Linked DNA regions of Homo sapiens. The protein of the gene in region 3 purifies or fractionates together with the protein of the main gene of each other region. This does not show direct contact. Each region holds a gene or a part of one and is shown on either strand. Other genes may lie near its edges.

Region 1 (3,579 bases), on a different chromosome or scaffold from region 3:
TATTTGTGAAAATGATGCCAATGAGCAGTCATTTACAGACACTACGACTCAACCCACTCTCTAACAGGTTTCACTTCCTTCCACATAGAAAGGATGTACTACAGTATCTCGGTCACCAACCACGGCTCAAATCCAGGTGTTTCATTTATACTAGCAGTCTATGGATGACTGGCTTTGCGATCTCAAATTACAGTAGAGTACCAGAAAAAAATTACTCTCTATAAAATTCCTTATTTAAAAAGTCAACATTTAACACGCTTTAAATTGTCTAGGTGTTTTATTATATACAGCAATCCCAAACTTAATAATCACTCATTAACACTATCTATAAATTTATGAAGTATATTAAGTAAACAAATGCAGATCCCTGGGCATGGGGGAGCATACCAATCTCTGCAGTTGATAGCGTCACCATAGCCAGGGGTATCTACCACTGTCAGGCGTAGCTTGACCCCTCGCTCTTCAATTTCAACAGTTGAAGCCTCAATCTGGACAGTTCTTTCAATTTTTTCTAGAAAAGAAACAAACTTAATAGGGAATATAAGCAGCATGTGAAGAGGAAAGCTCACGTTCTTACGACAGGTGACTTCAGAGTCTACTGCCTCTCTACAGAGGTAGGTTCTCCAAAGATACCATGGGGATTAAGAAAAAAAGATCCCAGAGAAGTCAGAAAGGGGAAGGTTAAAGCTAAGATTATTGTGCTACTGGGGAAGGTTAAAAACACAAATGTTAAAAATTATAATTTCTGTTCCTGGGAAAAAGAAAGCAATTTACGAATTCATTTAAAAACTGAATTCAAAAATATTCTGAAAGGGCTACATATTCTTGCAGCAGCCCAAGTCTTAGGCTCTCACTATGTGTGCCTATTTCATTCAACAGTCATTTGTGGATGCTGGTGTCCTGTGCTGGAACTTTCTGACAGTAGATGAATTCGAACATCTATCCTAGTAATCTTCTAGTTACACAGCATTTTTGATGTAAAACATTCTCACTTAATCCTTCCATCAAATATTTAATATAGGCAGAAACTACTTATTACATTTTACAGACAAACTCAAGAGAGGATGGATCCATGGATACGTGTCAAAGAAAGTCTACAACCCAAATCCAAGGACCTCGGTGCAGCACACCTACCCCATAAAAGTGTTTTCCTTGTGTTCAAAGCTGAACAAGAACAAACAAAACACACAGCTAAGACATAAAATATTAATTAGGCAGTCTTCAGCATCTTTCATGTAGAATTACACTTACAGTAACATAAGAATGTTTTTACCTGCTGCTCCAGGTATGACTCTTTCTGGGTACAGATCAGTTAGGAATAGGCTGTTTATGAGAGTCGATTTTCCTAGACCTGATTCACCTTTAAATAAAAAGAAAAACCTTGTCATGACCTTATTCATATGACACCATTCAATCGGTTAAGTGTTTACATAAGGCCTGGTACTGGGCTAAGTACCTCACAAACATCATTCTGTGTTTAGTACCTACAGTACTACTATGTTTGCAGTATGATCTTTGAGGGTACTCAAAGAAACTCTAATTTGCCCAAGGTCAGAGTACTATCCAGAGCAGGGCCAAGATTTGAATCCAGGTCTATGAGACTACAGAACTTGAACATCATATAATTAGAAACATAACTGTTCACAAATGTGAGGAATGTACTTTAGAGGTTGGTTTTTATTTTTGACAAATAGAATGCAAAGCAGGTTTTCAATTATCAGTTCTGCTAGTCACTAAACTCACCACATTTTCAGAAAACTGAACATATCTATCCCATAGTGTCAACAACCCTTGTGCTTCCCGAGCTGCAGAAACGTGTGAGCAGGACAGGGCCTGTGGTCTGGTGGGCTCACATGCACACCCTCACTCTGCAACCTCCCCCTTCTGCCACCTTGTCTTCTTCCTGCTTTAAATCCATCCCCGTTTCCCAGCACTGGCAACTGTCATATGTCGGGCAACTTTCCCGCTCACTTTGTTGAGTTCACACGACTAATTCAGGTGACACATATCCATGTAAGCTTTCAATGAGGTGAGAATCTCTCTTGAACTACTGTGACTACATATTCTGAATATTTGAAATTTAACTTCAAAAAAGATGCAAAATACCAAAAATTAAATTTTACATTTGAAGGAAGCACAAATCCCACTGCTTCATTGCAGATGATCATCTAGGTCTCAATTCTGCATGGAGAACTGCTTCTGATCTTGGTACTACTGGTGCTGGACTGTCCTCTGGGTACCCTAAACCACCCTCTGTTAAGTTCTGCAAAGCATGAGGAAGGAGTACACATCTCTTTTGAAAAATTATTTCTGGCTGGGCATAGTGGCTCACACCTATAATCCCAGCACTTTAGCAGACCAAGGCTGGAGGATCACTTGAGGCTAAGAATTCAAGACCCCGCCTGGGCAAAATAGTGAGACCCCCATCTCCCAAAAAACCAAAACAAAGTAAAAAAAACCCCAAAACCTTAGCCAGGTGTTGTGGCTTGTACCTAGAGTCCCAGCTACTTGGGAGGCTAGGGCAGAAGGATTGCTTGAGCCCAGGAGTTAGAGATTACAGCAGGCTATGATCATGCCACTGCACTTCAGCCTAGGTGACAGAGTGAGACCCTGTCCCTTACAGAATAAAACAATTCTGGGAAAATCAAGAACAAATAAGTGAATTTGCAATGTGCAGACGCACAGCCGGGCGCGGTGGCCCACGCCTGTAATCCCAGCACTTTGGGAGGCCGAGGCAGGCGGATCATGAGGTCAGGAGTTCAAGACCATCCTGGCTAACATGGTGAAACCCCGTCTCTACTAAAAATACAAAAAATTAGCCGGGCGTGGTGGCGGGCGCCTGTAGTCCCAGCTACTCGGGAGGCAGGAGAATGGCGTGAACCCGGGAGGCGGAGCTTGCAGTGAGCCGAGATCGCACCACTGCACTCCAGCGTGGGCGACTGAGCGAGACTCCATCTCAAAAAACAAAACAAAACAAAAAGAAACATGCAGACATACAAAATTAGGACTGCATTTTAAGTGAACTGCAATTTTCACACATGAAAAGAACAAAACAATGTGTTGAACATGCCTAAATATGAGTGTAAAAATTTGACTAAATGCCTGTTATCCCATTAAGTCATCCTTTTAATAAACGGTGGTGCAATGCCCCTTTACCTGTTTCTTTAGAAGTCTGACAAAATTTTAAAAACTGCCTTTCCTCTTCAATAGTCTCTCATTTACTAATTAGGTGTGTTAGGGTTTTCCTGATACACCCATTTTTCTTGAGCTATTAATACTACAATTTAAAAGTTGAGGATTCTTGTGGCTTTCTAGTTTTACTTTTCACTACTCACCCTCAACCCCCTACCTGTTTTATTTTAAAGCCACTTTGAGGCACGATTTACAAATACTAAAATACACCCATTTAAACTGTACAGTTTTGACAAAAGTAGATACTCAGATAATCAAACTCCACTCAAGATAAAGATTATTTTCATAACCCTAGAGTTGCTTTGTGTAACTGTGAAGTCTACCCTCTCCAGTCCCCACCGCAGGCAAACACCAATCTACTTTGTCACTATGTATCAGCTTTGCTTA
Region 2 (3,579 bases), on a different chromosome or scaffold from region 3:
AATTCTCTGCAAACTTTCACCTGACAAAAATTCCCACCCTTAGTCCCCCAATTTTCCACAAAAATGTTGGGACAGGCAGGAATTTGTATGGCACAGGCTCAAAGCTGAGAGGTAAGAATGGCTAGCTCCTCAGATATGCTGTCTTGGACAGTAACACATCCAGTAAGCAAGCCAAAAGCACTTTTGACTTTGAGTGCTACCAGCAAACTGCGAGCCAGGGACTTGCCAAGAGATACTCAGGCCTCCTCCACTTTGCAGGAGCCATTTCCACCCCTGGGGGAGACACCAGGTTTCATTCCTCCCTGGGTCCTCACCCAGGAACAGGGCTGACCCCTGGTAATCAAAGATTCACCCCTGACAAAGGGCTCACTTCACTAGAAAGCAATGTTTTTCCCTGTGTTTTCTATAGCAGACTGGGGGGCCAAGCATCACCTGACTCCATTTATTCGCTTTAGCTTATATAGAAAGCCTCATTCTGCTTTGTCAGCCAAAATATTTATATCACTTTTTTGTCGACTCAATACCATCCTCACCTCAGCCTTCCTCCTTTCCTTTTTAAGAAAGGAGTTGTCGCCAACATGTTTCTCCAGTTCTTTGCTGTTCATGAAGCACTTTCTAGTCCATTAACTCATACGATGCTTTCAAAAAGCCTGGAAGGGTTTAAGGATGGCCTGTCCTCCCACTAAACAGATGAACAAGTAGAGGCTGTGTCGGGGTCCCAGACCCCAAGGCCTTCCAGGGCTAGGCAGGCCACATACATGATTGAAACAGGATGAGGCTGGGGACAGATGCAAACAGGAAAGAATCTGTGAAAGACTCACAAACTCCAAACTTTCTGAACCCTGGGCTGGCAAAAAGATAAAATAACATACAAGAGAAGGGACCCACTCATCTTGTGGCCCTTAGTCTGTGACTCAGTTTACACAACTTACCCAGCATAGCACTAATAATTCGTACTAGTTATAAAAAGTAACGTGTATTTAAAAAGTAACATGTATGTCAAGAGTTTACAAAGCATTTTCAAACTTGTTATCTTATGTCATTCCTGTGAAGAATCATTACCAGCCCATTTCTCAGATGCAGAAATTAAGATACGGAAGGACTAAAGAACTTGTCTGTGGACTTGAAAGTGTGTAAGCAGCAAACCTGTCCCAAACCCAGGTCATCATCCAGGAACCCCAGGGCCTGCCTTGCCCCACTGCCACGTCACTTACACTGCTGAGAGACACCATCCAATCCAGCTGCCTAGCCACAGGCGTCTCCCCTTTGAAACCTGATCACTCCAGGATCAGGCAGAGAAGCAGGTCATCCAGCCCTGCTTTGATGACAACCCCAAGGGTATCTAATTATAACAGGGAAGGGAGGAGTCAGGATTCTCTCGCTATTTCTCAAGACCAAATTAATTTTAATTCCTTTTGATACAGTGTATACACACAGGGCAGGAAAAGCACTGGTTGAGGAGTGAAGAAATCTGAGGCTTTTAGTCCCACTTCCGCTTGTTCACTGAGGTCTTGGGTAAGTCACTCCACCTTCTTCCCAAGGCCTCAGTTTCTCTGTCTCTCTCTCTCTCTCTCTCTCTCTCTCTCTCTCTCTCTGTGTGTTTGTGTCTCGATAAGGAAGGAAAAACTGGCTTCATGTCCCATGGGGTGCGTGTGTGTGTGTGTCGATAAGGAAGGACAAACTGGCTTCATGTCCCATCTAAGCCCAACTGATGGGTAGCATTATATAATACTAAGGACTCTGAGGCCGCTGGCCATACTCAATGGAAAGGACTACCATGGTCAATTAGTGATGTCTGCCACAGGCTAGAGGATGGGGAATGGCAGCATGTATGCTACTTATTTACCATCCTTGGACTAGATGATGCACAAATAACATGCTGCAAGTGAAAAGAACTTTGCCCTTTACAAAACTTTTTTCTTACATCTCTCACAACTTTCACAAGAACCCTATGCATCATCATCTTCAATCATCATCATCAATATATTATCATCTCACCTTTACAGGTAAGGAAAATACGGTGCAAGGAAATGAAGTACTTTGGCAAACACCACAAAATGATTAACTGGTGGAGCAGAGAGGGGAGCCGTGCCTTGGCTCTCCGACTATGCTCTGCTCATTCTACCCTTGGAAATGTCAAACTGGTGCTCCGCTGTTGTCGGGCCAGCTCATGCATGTGGCTGTACTGAAGAGACCCCCCTCCCCCATTTACAGGACTTCACCTCCCTCCCACGGGCTACTTGCCCCTTTTAGAGAGGCCACAGCAAAATTACAAAACCTACACACAGACATGGCAGGAAAGTAGGACTAAGTCAGAGTTCCAGATGTTTCTTCCCAAGGTGAAGTCCTGCCTTCACTGTACAGGGCGGGGGGGGGGGGGGGGGGGGCCAAGCCCAGAGAAAAGTGAGGTAAACAGAGCATGGAGCCCCCACAGGTCATAGTCCTCCCCACCAGGAGGACAACAACACTCAATCCCAAGATGCTTTCAACTGATAGATGCACCATCGATTTTATAACAGCTTTTGGAGAAGAAATAAGAGGGAGAAAAAGTTCACTAGAAGAACAAATCTACTGTAAGGGGCATCCTGATTTCAGAAATATGGAAACGTGGGAATATGAACACTGAGGATCGATGTCTACCTTAACTTAGGATTCTATGCTTGCTTGCTGAAATTGGCCACAAAGTGTTAAAAATGACAGCATTTTATAAAACGTGCTGAAAAAAACTAAGCCAAGAAACAGAAGGTTCTGTTTTCTCCCATAAATTTTCCTTGAATCTTTGACATCTGCAAACCAAAATTCAACCAAAAATGGGGTCACATCACACATTTAGGTGCTTCAAGTTGAAGGAGCCCGTGTGCCTGGATATTCTGCAAACAGGCCCCTGGTGTTCAGTTCCAGGACACCTGGCTAAGAAGACCAGGCATAAATACAGGGCACTGCTATGCCCCATTCACCATACCTGCAAATCAGGCATCTGGGGGTCCCCCATCCACTTTAAAGAAATACTTTATACAAAAGGAGTGAGGAGGGCAGGGGTGAAAGTCATCAGACGAACATTTTAAAAATCCCCCAAGACATGTAAAGGAGCATTTCCCCAACTAAGGATCCCTGTTGGACTTATTATTCCAGGGGAGCCATGGCTTCAGAGCCAGCTGTAAGAAAATGTGCCTCGGGCTCCCTAATAAAACATTGGCTTTGACCAAATGGCCAAGCCCAAATTGGTCATCCACTCTTCACTAGACCCAAAGCCCACTGATCTGAGCTATTTCCAAAAATCAAATGAAGTCATCAAATATTTATGGAGCTGCTGCTCTGCGCCAGACCCTAAAATGAATAACCGGTGATCTCTACCCTCACAGATGTTACAAGTTGGCTGGAGAAGCAGAAATGCAAACAACCAACTCTGACCTGTGGGTCCACATTGTTTGGGAGGTACCATGGGGGCAGAGGGAGAGGAAGCCTACCTGGGGAAATTTGTTGGGGGAGCTCTACAGAAGAAGAAGTGCAGCTGATCTCGAGGAGGGTCTGGTTTCTCACGAAGCAGATATGAATGAGGGAAGGGGCACCAGAGGCAAG
Region 3 (3,500 bases):
CTTGCATCTGGGTAATTAATTCTGCCTCTCACAGTATTTCACTCTGTGTGTATACCTGTAAAATTTATTGGGATTTATTTCTAGCTTTTTGTCCAAACTTGTCATATTAATTTTGAATTCTTGATGTTTTACTGCATAAATTAGTTGACAGGCCATGTGTGCCAACTTGCATCCAGGAATGGGATGAGCAGCATCAGAACTTCACCACCAGAGTCACTGGGTAATTAAGTAGATAGCACTGGGCCTGATCCCATCGCTACCCTGCAGTTCAGAATGCCCCTCTTATAACAGGGGCAGCATGGTAGTACTTCATCAGCTGTACTCTAACCCAGCAACGATAGAGTGGAAAATCATACTTTCCTTAATGTTTTGTTAATTTTGGGAGCCCTCCACACCACTGACTGCTGCATTTTAGAATAATATATAGAAGACATGGAAATCATGAATATGAATTACTCTCTAGAATCGGTGCAGCAATAGATTTTGGTGTATTAGAAAGAATCCTTTACCACAGTAGCCTCAATGCCAAACGTTTTCAACTCAGCCCAGAGCTGAAGGCATTAATGAATTCTAATAGCAAGGCAGCATACCCTCCAGTGGGATTCTAATTGACAAAGAGATAGAAAACTGAAACAAGAAGGCCAGCGTGTCCTTTGGGGAGCTGGCACACAGCACCGGCCACAGTGCATCAGGCTCCAGGCCAAAGAAAAGTGAGCCCAGCAGTGAGTGCTATTGCCCTGTCTAAGCTAAAAGCAGGTGTTCTTGGCTGGGCTGTCAGGGGTCTGCAAACCCCCTGCCACTGAAAGCACAATTATAGATGTATGTATGTTTTCCAGCAAGCAGGATACTCAGCTTTTATCTGATACTCAAAAATATCCCTGAAATATAGAGGGCCAAGAAGCTCTGTTTGCTCGATGAACAATTATCCAAACTTCAAAATGGATAAAATAGGTTGTTGGAAATTAATACAACAACAATACTCAAAGAAAAGAGAATTAGCATCTATCCATCGCTGATTGTGTATCAGAGATTCTTGGAGACATTTAATCCTCACAATAACCTAATTTTAAGATAGAAAGAGAAAGGATTCAAACTCAGGTCTTCCTGAAAGCCCACATACTTCCTACTCCACACTGCCTCTCTAAAGAATGAAAGCGATTAACCATTGGATATTAATAAAAAATAAAGATAAGCAATCTAAAACAATAGGGAGATAGGATTTGATATTCAAAAATTTGATTTTTTAAAACTTAGGAGCTTATTGTTGAGCAAAGTTGAGAGATTTAAACCCAACTGACATTTATTCTATAGGATGACCCAGGGTACAGCTTCAAGAAGGGGTGGTTCCTTCAGAGCAAAAGCCTTTCAAGAAACTGAAGAAGTTGTAAATGGAACAGTTGTGAGGTCCAGCCTTACTGTTCAGTTTCTCATGAATATGATCATGTGTGTATGAACAAAAAGATTTAATTCCTCTTTTGTATCTCTGTACCAGTTGATGACAGTCATTTGTACATAATATATTACATTAGGTAAATTCTTCTGTATTTTACTTTGTCTCTGAAGTATTAGTTCTTTTCTCCCAAGCTTTTAAAACAGAGCTTAGGAAATATTCCTGCCCACATAACTAAATGCTTAACTAACTCTCAATGCTGCCTTCTCTAAAACTATAAATCCCAAAGTACATATTGGTCATTGTTTTATGGAAAATATTATTTGAGAATATTCGGTGAAAATTTAGCAAAGTAAATTCATGCAAATTTCTGGAGTTTTCTGTAGTGCTTTTGCCAGTATATCTTACGTAAAGCAATGTGATCATCTGTTTGGAGAACTCTGTTTGGGGAAGCTGAGCAGGATTAATTCCCGTCCCTGTGTTGCAGTGTAAATAGCTTTTTTCCTGTCTTTTGTCATTAATGATCATGCCGTAGATGTAGCCAGTGCATTGTAAGCCGATCTGTCAAGGCAAATAAACAATTCACCTTGTTAAAATTCCCTAAATCTTGCATTAATAAACCTAAGTAACCCCCTGAACACTCAAGAGATGTCTTCCTCCATACTGCGGTGATGGATGACACGTCTAAAGATCCTGGAAATTAAGTAGTTCAGGTCATTAAAAGTGTCCCACACTTGTTATTGATTTAATTTATTTTAAGAAGGTGGGGGTGGAGATAAGAATGTTATACCCTCCCCTCTTTTTTTAAATCTGAAAGCAACCACTTGTACAGATAATTAAAACTATTGCCTGGGGTAACAAGTCTGCATGTGTTACAAATTAGGCTTTATTATTCAAATAAGTATTGTATCATCCTCTTAAACAGATATCTAGAAAAAAAAACAATCATTGAAACATGTGTCATAGCCAAAATACCTCGGAGTTTTATATGTGTGATGACGCCTAGAACTTTTTGAGTTACAGGCACTGAAATAATGACCTCTGGGCACCTAAAAAATGTCCTTGAATAGGTAAAAACTGAGATGAAAGTGAAATGATTTAAGGAAATTTAATTGAAATAGTAATGAAATTATGCCTCTGGATAAAGGAGGTTTTTTTTTTCTTTTTATTTTCTGAACTTTTTATTTTTCTATTTTTATAACCAGGAGAAAGTAAACACATACACACACATGGATGGAGAGAGGGACAGAGGGATGGACGGATGAATGCATTGGTAGATGGGAAAACGCTTAGAGAGTGATACGCTATTTCGATTCTATCTCACTATATTCTAAGGCAAGTTTAAGTTGTTGTTTAGTGTGTGTGTTTACTTGTTCATTGCTAGCTTTCTTCAGCCCATGCTCCACTGGACCTGTAAGATTTATCATCATGTCCCAGTGCCTAACATAATAGATGCCCAGGAAATTATTATTTAGTGAATAAAGTATAACACCCCAATTTTTTCTTCTATCTTTTATTCCTTAAGCTTCCATGGGAATGGTGAGCTGTGTAAAGAACCGTAGCAGCCCCCAGTGGAAGTGGCTCTTTAGATGACCCCTCTCCAGGGACTGAACACCAGGAGGGTTCTGCTCTAGTGTGGGACAGAGGGCAGCCTAGGAGGACTGGCAACCTGTATAGTTACCCACTTCATTTGTATGACCTGAACTGGGTAACAGTATTACAAAACCTGATGAGGAATTGGGGCCACTCAGTATGTGAACCATGGCTAAGAACAAGATGTGATATAGAACTATGTATCTACAAGGTACATAATTTCACCTCACTTTTGTTACTTGTTATGTATCTTATGCACCACCCTTACACAGTATTCCTGATCAGTTGTGTGAGTGATATTTCACCACTGATTCTCATAGTTCTTTAAACAACATGTACTTACTGGACAAAATTTACCCATGATAAGTTATGAAAAATGACCCTTAAGAATAGTTGTATTGAAGTCAGAGATTATGATAAAACCTTTGATGCTTTTCTCCTGTGGTCTTTTAGAAGAGGGGGAGGGGGAGGGGGAGGTGGCAAACTTATATTCAGTTCACACACTCTGGTAGACTTT
Region 4 (3,579 bases), on a different chromosome or scaffold from region 3:
AAAGCAGCATGACCTCAGCCTCCTTCTGCAGCCAGGCTGGCACCTGTGGACCCCGGGGGTGGGAGTAAGCTCCTTACACGGGGCCATTACCTGACACTGGTGGCTCCGAGCGACTGAACAGATCTCTCCAACCAGAATCCAGGAAGGAACTACTGTATTTACTGTCGACTGACCCCAAGTATTTGGCCACAGGGTGAGAACCTGGTAGATGGAAAACCAGAGGTGGTGAATTCGTCAGGAGATGAGACAGTGTGGGAGCAGCTGTCCCTGGCCACGGCCTTGGTCTCCTTGACTGTCCCTTCCTAGGCCCCAACCCCACCGTCCTGTTCCAGATGAGGCATCTGTCTATGGAACCCTCATGCCCGACGCCCTCCTGGTGCCTCCCGTCTTTACCGAGGGGGATGATGAGGAAGCGCATGTAGCCAAGCCAGTCGGAGGTCTTGTTGGCCAGGGACTTGACAAAGAACCTGAGGATGGAGCTCAGGTAGCTCTGGCCTCCCACAGCAGCCACCTTCACTGGCCTCGGCATGGAAGAGTTGCAGTTGCAGCTGGGGAGGAAGGGGAGCGTCATAGCAGTGCTCAGGGGTGCCAGGATCCTGCCCGGGGGAGGCCCAGAGCTGACTTTCTGTGATCTCAACAACCCACAGGGGAAAAGCAAACCAATCCACAAAATAAAACAGAGAGGATCATACAGGGAATAAGCCACAGTGCTTTCACAACCAAGAGAAAAATCCAGGGTCAGAGGGCATTGCCCATGAAGCAGACGGAACAGCTGAGGCTAACGTAGGACTCGGCAGTGTGCCTGGGATGCCCGCAGGGTGTGTGCCCCCAGGCCTGGAATCCATAGTTCTCTTTCACAAGGGCAAGGGACTTGGGCCTTTTAAGAAGGCCCTGAGGGTAGGGGAAGCACTGACTCCTGAGTGTCTAGCAGCATGTTGCAGATGGAAGGAATAAAAGATCTTTTTAAAACCAGTGTGTCCTCTCCTTCATCATGGGTTTAAGAGGATAAAGCAAGTCAAGGCATGGCGGGGGTCCAGGCAGGGAGGCAGGGAGCACAGGAATTGATATTTCCACCCCCGATCCTCTGGGGTCTGCCGGGGCCTCAAGCCCTACAGCCTGCTGCCGCCACCCCCCTAAACATACGCCCCTCTGCAAATTCTTGGTCTGATGAGGCCAGGAGGGTCTATCATTGCTTAGAAGTCAGGGTTGGAAGATGAGGTCAGAGGGAATCTCTAAGGGCAGGAGAAGGGAGGCCAGAGCCCTTACTAGCGCTGGATCCGGGTGAGCAGGGCGGACAGCACGGCCTGGACCTCCACGGTGGAGCAGGTGCACACCACAGGCTTCCGCTGGTCCTGGAGCAGCTCAGCCACATACTGGGATAGGGAGGGAGGAGAGCAGGGACACAGGTGAGAACACATCACTCCTTCACAAGGGCCAAGAGGCAAGTGAGACCCAGACCGAGCTGCAGGGCCCCTGTCCTCTGCAGTTCAGACCGAAGCTGGGCAAAGGCAGCCAGGTCTCCGGACTGCCAGTAAGGAGGGGGTGGGGCCGACCCACGAGACACGCAGAGTGTGAGAGATGGGAAGCCTTAGGGGGTTTCACATGCTAGGACACTCCAGGTGTCCCCGGCACCAGTGTCTAAGCCAGGTGGACAGCGGTGAGGGAGCAGGCAGGGATGCTCTGCCTTGCTGACCTGCCTTCATGGGGCAGCCCTGGAGGTTACAGCCGGGTGCTTCTCTACAGGCCTCCGTTCCACTATGCTGCCTGACGCATGTGGCGCCCTGGAGGAATTACTGTTGCTTTTTGTTTGTTTGTTTTTTAACGTATGAGGAAGCTGAGGTAGAGCAAACTTAGTGATTTAAGATCCCACAAGTTGGATAATGACAGAAGTTGGACTAGAACTCAGAGTTCTGGGCTCAGTTCAGAGCAGGTGGGGGCTGATGGAGGGGTGAGTTCCCCACCTCCCCACGCAATAGTATGGAGGCCACACTGACAATGCAACCGGGCATTGCCTGCCCTCCAGGACCCCACATGGCCTCGCAGTTTCAGCACTTACCTGGCCCTGCCAGTCAGTGGTGTTCACCAGAATGACATTTTCTGGGAGGGCTGCATCTGACACCAGGATCTGATTGAGCTGGTCATACACCACCTTTCTTGGAATCTGCAGGAACAAAAGAAAGTGTCTCTTGTTAGGGAGTCCCTGGGGAGCCTGAGGACAGGGCTGCTGGACTGGTGCATGGGGAGTCTCTGGAGCAGGGGTGTTAGAGAGAACAGATATCAGGACTTTGGGAGGGAGACTCAGTCTCCCACTGGCCAGACCACGATGGAAAGGAGGAGAAAGAAGCAGCAAAGCGAGTCCTTAGAGGACACATGGAGATGAGGAACAAAGCCACAGCGGTTGTCCTGCCAGGGCAGGTGGAGAGGATGGAGGTGCAGCAAGCCTCGCGGATGGGAAACGGTGTGGGTGGCAGGAGGGGCAGCAGCGTAAGAACCAGGAAGGGAGAGGCAGAGGGCGGCCAGCAGGTGCTCAGAGAAACAGAAACGAGGGCAGTGGGGAGAGAAATAATGAGAGTGGCAATGAGTGCTGTGTGGGTACCTGCTGTCTGAGGGAACAAAAGGTATTTCAGGAACAGTGATTAACAAGAAGGACAATACCTCACCCCAGGCACTGGGCTATTCTAGTCTCAAGTTCATTTTCAGCCATGTAATAGCATGGAGCTCAGGAGGCCACACTGACAATGCACTTGGTAAGTTATCAGGGGAATGAACAGGCTGGCTGTTTAACCCTAGCAGAACTGGAACTGTGTAAGGTGTGCCGGGAAAATCCCTGTCCCAGATCTCTGACACCACAGGCCTTCAAAAGGAGAACACGATTCCTGAGGCCCAGTTCTTCTGACTTCTTCTCCAGCCCACTCTCGGGTCCTTCCATTGAAACAGTTTAATATTGTTGGCTTCCCGGCTTGAAAGCACGATGACCGCCCACAGCAATACTCAGGTTGGGAGCTCGGGTCAGGATGTCCCATGAGATCCAGAGGCTGCTGTCCTCTGCAACAGTGGATTCACGGCACAATCTCCAGACTGACGTCTGATGGAGGCAGAGACACCGGTGGTGTGGAATCGACACTCGCAGCCGTGGCAGGCCACGACCACACAGCGTTTTTGGCTCCCCTGCCTGCGCCCTAGAGGTCAGCGTGGAAGCCAGTTCCACACTGGCAGTAAGCAAGGAATATAGGAGACCTCTCTAATTTAGTCTTTCTTCAAGAGTTTTTGTTCAGAGCATTTCCAAGTATTCCTCTTCTCTCCAACTAACTGTCCAAGGAAGCCAACAAAACAGAGCCTGAAGTTCAGGGAATCTCAGAGGGTCCTGGTGTTTTGGGGGCACCCAGAAGTACCTGCGTGCTGTGGCCCAGATCTGGGGAGCGCTCGCTGTCGGAACTGTTGGTCCTCTCACTTAGGGGCTTGGAGAGCTGCCGCTCCTTCAGGGGCGTGCTCCTCTTCTGCCGGGGTGTGTGCACCCCCTCCACTTTGCTGCCAGGGAGGTGGAAAAAGGCTGGTGAAATAGCCCCTCCAACCCCAAAG

Evidence for each region.
Region 1: the proteins of SNX24 (region 3) and SEPTIN2 fractionate together in Homo sapiens (co-fractionation; one large-scale study listed by BioGRID). This does not show direct contact.
Region 2: the proteins of SNX24 (region 3) and ZNF618 purify together in Homo sapiens (affinity purification with mass spectrometry; one large-scale study listed by BioGRID and IntAct). This does not show direct contact.
Region 4: the proteins of SNX24 (region 3) and PACS1 purify together in Homo sapiens (affinity purification with mass spectrometry; 2 studies listed by BioGRID and IntAct, with this or other methods). This does not show direct contact.

What each region holds. Positions count from the first base shown.
Region 1 is NC_000002.12:241,332,907-241,336,485, reverse strand, and holds part of SEPTIN2 (septin-2), read right to left. Parts: intron 1,361-3,579; coding exon 1,274-1,360; intron 1,165-1,273; coding exon of another isoform or gene 1,135-1,164; intron 528-1,134; exon of another isoform or gene 512-527; coding exon 388-511; intron 1-387.
Region 2 is NC_000009.12:113,882,791-113,886,369, reverse strand, and holds part of ZNF618 (zinc finger protein 618), read right to left. Parts: intron 1-3,579. UniProt on the Homo sapiens protein: Regulates UHRF2 function as a specific 5-hydroxymethylcytosine (5hmC) reader by regulating its chromatin localization.
Region 3 is NC_000005.10:122,995,613-122,999,112, forward strand, and holds part of SNX24 (sorting nexin-24), read left to right. Parts: intron 1-2,595; exon of another isoform or gene 2,596-2,725; intron 2,726-3,500. UniProt on the Homo sapiens protein: May be involved in several stages of intracellular trafficking.
Region 4 is NC_000011.10:66,230,754-66,234,332, reverse strand, and holds part of PACS1 (phosphofurin acidic cluster sorting protein 1), read right to left. Parts: intron 3,529-3,579; coding exon 3,393-3,528; intron 2,162-3,392; coding exon 2,057-2,161; intron 1,374-2,056; coding exon 1,267-1,373; intron 549-1,266; coding exon 394-548; intron 202-393; coding exon 91-201; intron 1-90. UniProt on the Homo sapiens protein: Coat protein that is involved in the localization of trans-Golgi network (TGN) membrane proteins that contain acidic cluster sorting motifs.